2 linked regions of the Homo sapiens genome follow. The protein of the gene in region 1 purifies or fractionates together with the protein of each later gene. This does not show direct contact. Each region holds a gene or a part of one and is shown on either strand. Other genes may lie near its edges.

Evidence for each region.
Region 2: the proteins of ADA2 (region 1) and TRIO purify together in Homo sapiens (affinity purification with mass spectrometry; one large-scale study listed by BioGRID and IntAct). This does not show direct contact.

What each region holds. Positions count from the first base shown.
Region 1 is NC_000022.11:17,209,166-17,213,189, reverse strand, and holds part of ADA2 (adenosine deaminase 2 isoform a precursor), read left to right. Parts: intron 1-3,466; 5' UTR 3,467-3,512; coding exon 3,513-3,834; intron 3,835-4,024. UniProt on the Homo sapiens protein: Adenosine deaminase that may contribute to the degradation of extracellular adenosine, a signaling molecule that controls a variety of cellular responses. Requires elevated adenosine levels for optimal enzyme activity.
Region 2 is NC_000005.10:14,289,842-14,293,341, reverse strand, and holds part of TRIO (triple functional domain protein), read right to left. Parts: intron 2,627-3,500; coding exon 2,114-2,626; intron 331-2,113; coding exon 208-330; intron 1-207. UniProt on the Homo sapiens protein: Guanine nucleotide exchange factor (GEF) for RHOA and RAC1 GTPases. Involved in coordinating actin remodeling, which is necessary for cell migration and growth. Plays a key role in the regulation of neurite outgrowth and lamellipodia formation.

The sequences.
Region 1 (4,024 bases):
TTATTTTTTGCCTTTTAAGTAATAGCCATTTTTTGAGATGGGGTGAGACGATCTCATTGTAGTTTTGATTTGCACTCCCCCAGTGATTAGAAAAAATGTTGGCTGGGCCTGGTGGCTCAGATCTATAATCCCAGAATGTCGGGAGGTAGAGGCAGGAGGATCGCTTGAGCCCAGGAGTTTGAGACCAGCCATGGCAACATAGTGAGACCCTGTCTCTAAAGAAAAAAAAAAAATTAGCTGAGTGTAGTGGTACTACACTCAGCTACTCAGGAGGCTAGGGTGGGAGGATTCCTTGAAGCCGGGAGGTTGCCGCTGCAGCGAGCTTTGGAGTCCAACCAAGTGGACTCACGCTACTGCATTCCAGCCTGGGCAACAGAGTAAGACCCTGTCTCAAGGAAAAAAAAAAAAGAAAGAAAGAAAGCAAAGCAAAGAAAAAAATTTGGGCATTTATTCGTATACGTATTGGCCATTTTGTATGTCTTTGGGTCTTTGGCCATTTTTTAAGTGAGATTATTTGTCCTTTTACTGTTGAGTTGTTTGATTTCCTTATATAGTCTGGATATTAGCTCTCCATCAGATAACTAATTTGTAAATATTTTCTCCTATTCAAGAGATTGGCCGGGCATGGTGACTCACGCCTGTAATCCCAGCACTTTGGGAGGCCAAGGCAGGAGGATCACCTGAGGTCAGGAGTTCAAGACCAGCCTGGGCAACATAGTGAAACTCCGTCTCTACTACAAATACAAAAAAATTAGCCGGGCCTGGTGGCACATGCCTGTAGTCCCAGCTACTCAGGAGCTGGGAGGCTCAGGCAGAAGAACTACTTGGACCAGGGAGACGGAGATTGCAGTGAGCCAAGAAAAGGCTGGGCACGGTGGCTCATGTCTGTAATGCCAGTACTTTAGGAGTCCGAGTCTGGTGGATCACCTGAGGTCAGGAGTTCGAGACCAGCCTAACCAACGTGGTGAAACCCCATCTCTATTAAAAATATAAAAAAATTAGCCGGGCGTGGTGGCACGTGTCTGTAATCCCAGCTAGTCTGGAGGCTGAGGCAGGAGAATCGCTTGAACCTGGGAGGAGGAGGTTACGGTGAGCCGAGATCGCGCCATTGTACTCCAGCCTGGTTGACAAGAGCGAAACTCCGTCCCCCACAAAAGAAAAGAAAAGAAAAGAAAAGAAAAAAATAGGTTGTCTCTTCATTCTGTTAATTGTTTCTTTGCTATTTAATTAATTAATTAATTAATTTTTTTTTCCTCTTTTTTTGAGACGGAGTCTCACTCTGTTGGCAGGCTGGAGTGCAGTGGCACGATCTTGGCTCACTGCAACCTCCGCCTCCCGGATTCAAGCAATTCTCCTGCCTCAGGCTCCTGAGTAGCTGGGACTACAGGTGCATGCCACCACGCCCAGCTAATTTTTGTATTTTCAGTAGAGACGGGGTTTCACCATGTTGGCCAGGATGCTCTCGATCTCTTGACCTCGTGATCCGTCCACCTCAGCCTCCCAAAGTGCTGGGATTACAGGGGTGAGCCACTGCGCCTGGCCAATTCATTTATTTATTAGAGAGGATATGACATTGTTACCCAGGTTGGATTGCAGTGGCGCAATTTTGGCTCATTGCATCCTCGATTTCCCAGGCTCAGGTGAACTTCCCACCTCAGCCTCCCCAGTAGCTGGGACTATAGGTGTGCACAACCACGCCCAGCTAATTTTTGTATCTTTTGTAGAGATGGAGTTTCAACATGTTGCTGAGAATGGTCTTGAATTCCTGGGCTTGAGCAATCCACCTGCTGTGCCAGCACCTGGTCTTATTTTAATTTTATTTATTTATTTTGAGATTGAGTCTTGCTCTGTCGCCCAGGCTGGAGTGCAGTGGCGCGAACTCAGCTTATTCTAACCTCTGCCTCCTGGGTTCAAGTGATTCTCCTGTCTCAGCCTCCCAAACAGCTGGGACTACAGGCATGCGTCACCATGCCCAGCTAATTTTTGTATTTTTAGTAGGACGGGTTTTCATCATATTGGCCAGGCTGGTCTCAAACTCCTGACCTCGTGATCCACCCGCCTCGGCCTCCTGAAGTGTTGGGATTACAGGCGTGAGCCACCGCGCCCAGCCGTATTTTTATTTTTTAATAAAAAAATATTTTTTTTAGAGACAAGGTCTTGATCTGTTGCCAAGGCTGGAGTGCAGTGGTGAGGTCAAAGCTCATTGCAGCCTCAAAGTACTGGGCTCAAGTGATGCTCCCGCTTCAGCCTCCTGAATAGCTGGGACCACAGGCATGCTGGTTATATTTAAAAGTAAAACACTGGCTGGACATGTTGGCTCATGCCTGTAGTCCCAGCACTTTGGGAGGCTGAGATGAGTGGATCACTTGAGGCTAGGAGTTCAAGACCAGCCTGGCCAATATGGTCTCTATTAAAAATACAAAAATTAGCTGGGTATGGTGACGCGTGCCTGTAGTCCCAGCCACTTGGGAGGCTGAGGCACGAGAATCGCTTAAACCCTGGAGGCGGAGGTTGTAGAGGGCCAAGATCACGTCACTGCAGTCCAGCCTGGGTGACAGAGCAAGACTCTGTCTTAAAAAAAACAAAAATTAAAATAAATAAAATAAAATAAAAGTGAACCACTAAAAATCAGATTGCAGTGTCTTTATGCATGAGCCAGGGCTTGTTTGACCTCATGGTGACCTTTAATTTGGGAAAACCTGCCGGGCGCGGTGACTCATGCCTGTAATCCCAGCACTTTGGGAGACTGAGGCTGGCGGATCACCTGAGGTCAGGAGTTCGAGACCAGCCTGACCAACATGGAGAAACCCCGTCTCTACTAAAAATACAAAATTAGCCGGGCGTGGTGATGCATGCCTGTAATCCCAGCTATTTGGGAGGCTGAGGCAGGAGAAGCACTTGAACCCGGGAGGCGGAGGTTGCAGTGAGCCGAGATCACACCATTACACTCCAGCCTAGGCAACAAGAGTGAAACTCCATCTCAAAAAAAAAAAAAAATGCCAGGTGGTGCAGTGGCTCACGCCTGTAATCCCAGCACTTTGGGAGGCCCAGGCGGGCAGATCACGAGGTCAGGAGATCGTGACCATCCTGTCTAACACAGTGAAACCCCGTCTCTACTAAAAATACAAAAAATTAGCCGGGCATGGTGGCGGGCACCTGTAGTCCCAGCTACTCGGGAGGCTGAGGCAGGAGAATGGTGTGAACCCAGGAGGCGGAGCTCGCAGTGAGCCGAGATTGCACCACCGTGCTCCAGCCTGGGCAGCAGAGCGAGACTCCGTCTCAAAAAAAAAAAAAAAAAAATTGGGAAACCCCTACCTGTCTGTACCTGTAGGTCTTTTCTCTGGGGTCTGGAAGAAGAATCCTTCAATATCTTGCCTTCTGGTAATCTGAGAGCAGGGCGAGAAAAGGAAGATCAGAGTTCCACCCTTAAATCTGTAGGTTTTCACTCCCCCACTCTCCTTTGCAGTCCCGTGGAGTCTCCATCTGAGCCCTTTCCTAGTCCAGGCATCCCGATGTTGGTGGATGGCCCATCTGAGCGGCCAGCCCTGTGCTTCTTGCTGTTGGCTGTGGCAATGTCTTTCTTCGGCTCAGCTCTATCCATAGATGAAACACGGGCGCATCTGTTGTTGAAAGAAAAGATGATGCGGCTGGGGGGGCGGCTGGTGCTGAACACCAAGGAGGAGCTGGCCAATGAGAGGCTCATGACGCTCAAAATCGCTGAGATGAAGGAGGCCATGAGGACCCTGATATTCCCACCCAGCATGCACTTTTTCCAGGCCAAGCATCTCATTGAGAGAAGTCAAGTGTTTAATATTCTAAGGATGATGCCAAAAGGTAAGGTTTGGAAAGGGGTGGCTTGGGGTGCTGGGAAGGTAGAGGGACTCATCTTGGGGCTATTACTGTGCTTGTGGCTGTTGCTATTCTAGATGGAGCAGAGAAAGCCTCACTCAGCTGTTCTGCTCCTCTGTCCTTATGGGTAGACTAGGAAAAGGGTGTTGAAAACCAAAACCCCTGCTTCCTGGGG
Region 2 (3,500 bases), on another chromosome or scaffold:
TGCTTGTTTTCATTTTTGTTTAAAACTTAAAATGTGGGATAGTGAGACAATGGAACCCTAGGGAACACCCTCCATGTGAAGGTCAGCTGCTACAATCAACAGCCACTCCGAAGGCCCCTTGAAAGCCCTAGCATACAATTTGCCAAATGCCTCCCATTTGCTAAAACACTGTCACATGCCAGGGTCCAGCTGTTCCGAGTGTCTTACCATACAGTTCATGGCAAAGTGATTGTGCTGCGTCTGAAGCTCCATGGCATGAGGGTGGCTGGTCCCAATCTCTGTGTAGCTGTTTAGAAACAGGCCTTTGTTGTGTGTGATCCAGTCAAACATCTACCGGAAGGAAAAAGACAACCCGCAATCACTCCAGAAAGAGAAATTACTGACACAAGCCCACAGATGGGGCAGTACCAAGAAAGGGCAACTTCCTTCCCTGGACAACTTCAAGCGCTGTCTGATTCTCTCAGAAGAGTCTTTACTTCGAAGAACAAGTCAGCAGTTCTGAACTTGCAGGACCTACCAGAAAATCTTATCTGATGTGTTCCTCTTACAGAGAAGGAATTAAGAAGCAGATAAGTAAAGAGAGTTACTCTAATCCCCCAGGCTGATTAAAAACTCTGATCCTCTGACTCTCAGCCCAGTCTCCCTGCCACGCTGAACTACTTAATTTGCCACAGTGAGGTTCAATTAAAGACCCGTTAGGGTGAAATTAGGAACTTATGGGTCTCTGGATGGGTTCTGCTGTGCCCACAGGTTACTGACAGAAATATCAATGACTAAAAGATTCCACTGTTTGATCAAGAAGTACACAGACACCTGTGCAGATTGCAAAAACATAAAATTTACTATAAAAAAGGTGGGAAAAACTAACTATGACATCTCCCTTAAGGTTCAATATAGATGTTACTTGGACAAGGATGTCAATTAAGACATTTGCAATGAAAACATTTAAGAAAATATAGATGACTATCATCAATTAGCATTGCTACCATGACTTGAACCAGAATCCCAGTGACAGTAACCTGGTCTTCCAGTAATTGAAAAGAAGGTATTCCAGTCTCTTAGACAAGGTGCTACTTAAAACAAAAGAACACTGACAGATACATTAAAAGCTTTAGTAATAAAAACACTGGATTATCACCTTTTGAAAAGTCCTTTTACATCCAAGAATTCTAATGTGGTTTTTTACTTTACAAAATATTCTCCTGTCCATGTAATATAAAATTCAATGAGCTCCAATAAAACTCAATGATTAATTCACCCATGTTCATGGCTTGCAACACATACCTATGGGTAAGTGCCCAGTTTCCACATTGCTAAGATTCAATTAGCCAGTAATTGATAAGGATTCACTTTGACCAGTTGGTCTGCCTGGTGCATAAGAATAAAACATGAGACTAGAGGTGATTACCAACTATATTACCCAGAAACTGTTACTTTTAACACATTACTCATCTTGATTTTAAAAAACATACTCAATAGATTGGAATGGTGTTTTGTCAATAACATAACCCTGTGAAATTTTCACTTTTTTTTTTTTTTTTTTTTTTTTTTTTAAGACGGAGTCTCACTCTGTCGCCCAGGCCGAAATGCAATGGCACGATCTTGGCTCACTGCAACCTCTGCCTCATGGGTTCAAGCGATTCTCCTGCCTCAGCCTCCTGAGTAGCTGGGATTACAGGCGCGTGCCACCACACCCGGCTAATTTTCGTATTTTTAGTAGAGACGGGGTTTCACTATGTTGGCCAGACTGGTCTCAATCTCCTGACCTCAGGTGATCAGCCCACCTCGGCCTCCCAAAGGGCTGGGATTACAGGCGTGAGCACGGCCGAAATGTTCACTCTTTTAAGTGAAAATATCATTCCTATCTTACAGGCATCCTAGACCAAAGAATAAGTAATTTGAACTCAAAATTTCTAAAACAGCACTGTATTGCACAACGAGTAAAACCGGAAAACAGATTTCAGTGCCATTTCTGAAATGACTCTCGCTGGTTTAGAGCACACACGGTGAGTATAGCCTTACCATTCTCCACCTTTTCTCTTTCCTTCCACCCGAACCCACCAGCGCTGGCTTCCCCCATGTCCACTGAGGCATTAGCCTCCCCCGTCTTTACCTTCTCAGCATCCTGTTCAAACAGCCTCAGCTGGAAGCACTGGTCCAGCTTCAGCTTCCTCACATGCCACATCTGGTGCAGATGCTGCCGTGTCGAGTGCAGCCGGTCCAGCATGGTGGACACCTTGGGCAAGAGGTTCTGCAGGTCCGCATTGCCTGAGCCTGAGTTCTTTTTGGGAAAGCTTTCACTGCTCTGTATCCTCTGAAGCAGCTTCTGTCCCTCCAAATCCAGGTCCTCGATGGGGGCCTTAATCACCTTCTTCTTCAGCTGAGAATGTTCCTCGATCATATTCCGAGCCCCCTCTAAATCCTGAGGCAGCTCCTTCTTAGCTAGGATGTCCTGAAGTTCCTCCAGCCGAGACAGCATGTGGGTGGCATTGCTAATGTAGTCTTCAAAAGCAACTCTGATTTCAATCCATTCTTCGTGGTTGTATTCCAGGCAGCCATCAAACTCAGGAGTTAGCTGAGAAGGATCAACTACTTTGGTAAGGCCTTCTAAAGAGACCATATTTGTCTTAAGGGAAAAAAAATCACGTATGAGAAGATGAACCAATTTTATATAGTTTTAACATAATGCAATTTGCAATGCTCAGTCACAGGTTTTCAAAGTTAAAGTAATCTATTTATAGAAAACATAACATACCTGGTTCTGGCCCCATAAAAATAAATGTAGATGAAAGAAGCATTATCAGTACAATGAAAGACAAATCCATTATAGCAACACATATATGTCAGCTGGAATACCCAAAACTGTAGAATCGTGTATTTCATGAGAGCTAAAGAAATGAGATTTCTTTCCAAGAAGATGGAGATTAACCCACTATAACAGACACATTAAACTAGGAAACAGGTTAAATTGCAAGTTCAGAGCAAACAATTCAGAAATTTCACTTACATCAATGCATTCTTCTCCCCATTCTTTTTCATCCATGCCAGAAACTCTGTGGAGGTTTTCTACTACTTGCTATTACACAAACGTCTTGCTCAAGGGCATCAAAACCCTTTTAAGTGTAACATCACTCTAAATTCAATTACGTGTGGGCTGCCTATTAAACGATGAATGCTGCTCCAACCAGACCACCCTATCATTCATCTTGCCTAAGCCTAACCCCACTGCCCATCAAATAACAGATGATGGGATATGAATGAATTTATAAAAATTTAGAAAATATTCAAGAGTTGGCAAGAAAGCTGGCAGAGGCTCATTTGACAGAGCTAAGGATAGAGGCAATGTTTTATTCATTGCAATAATCTGCTGTGATTCTGAACAGTCCTAGAGTTGTATATAATCTGTACTACATTGCAATTTAACAGTGACAAAGTTTTAGTCAATTACAGTCTAAGCAAGAAATCTTTATATTTATTATTATTATTTTTTTTTGAGATGG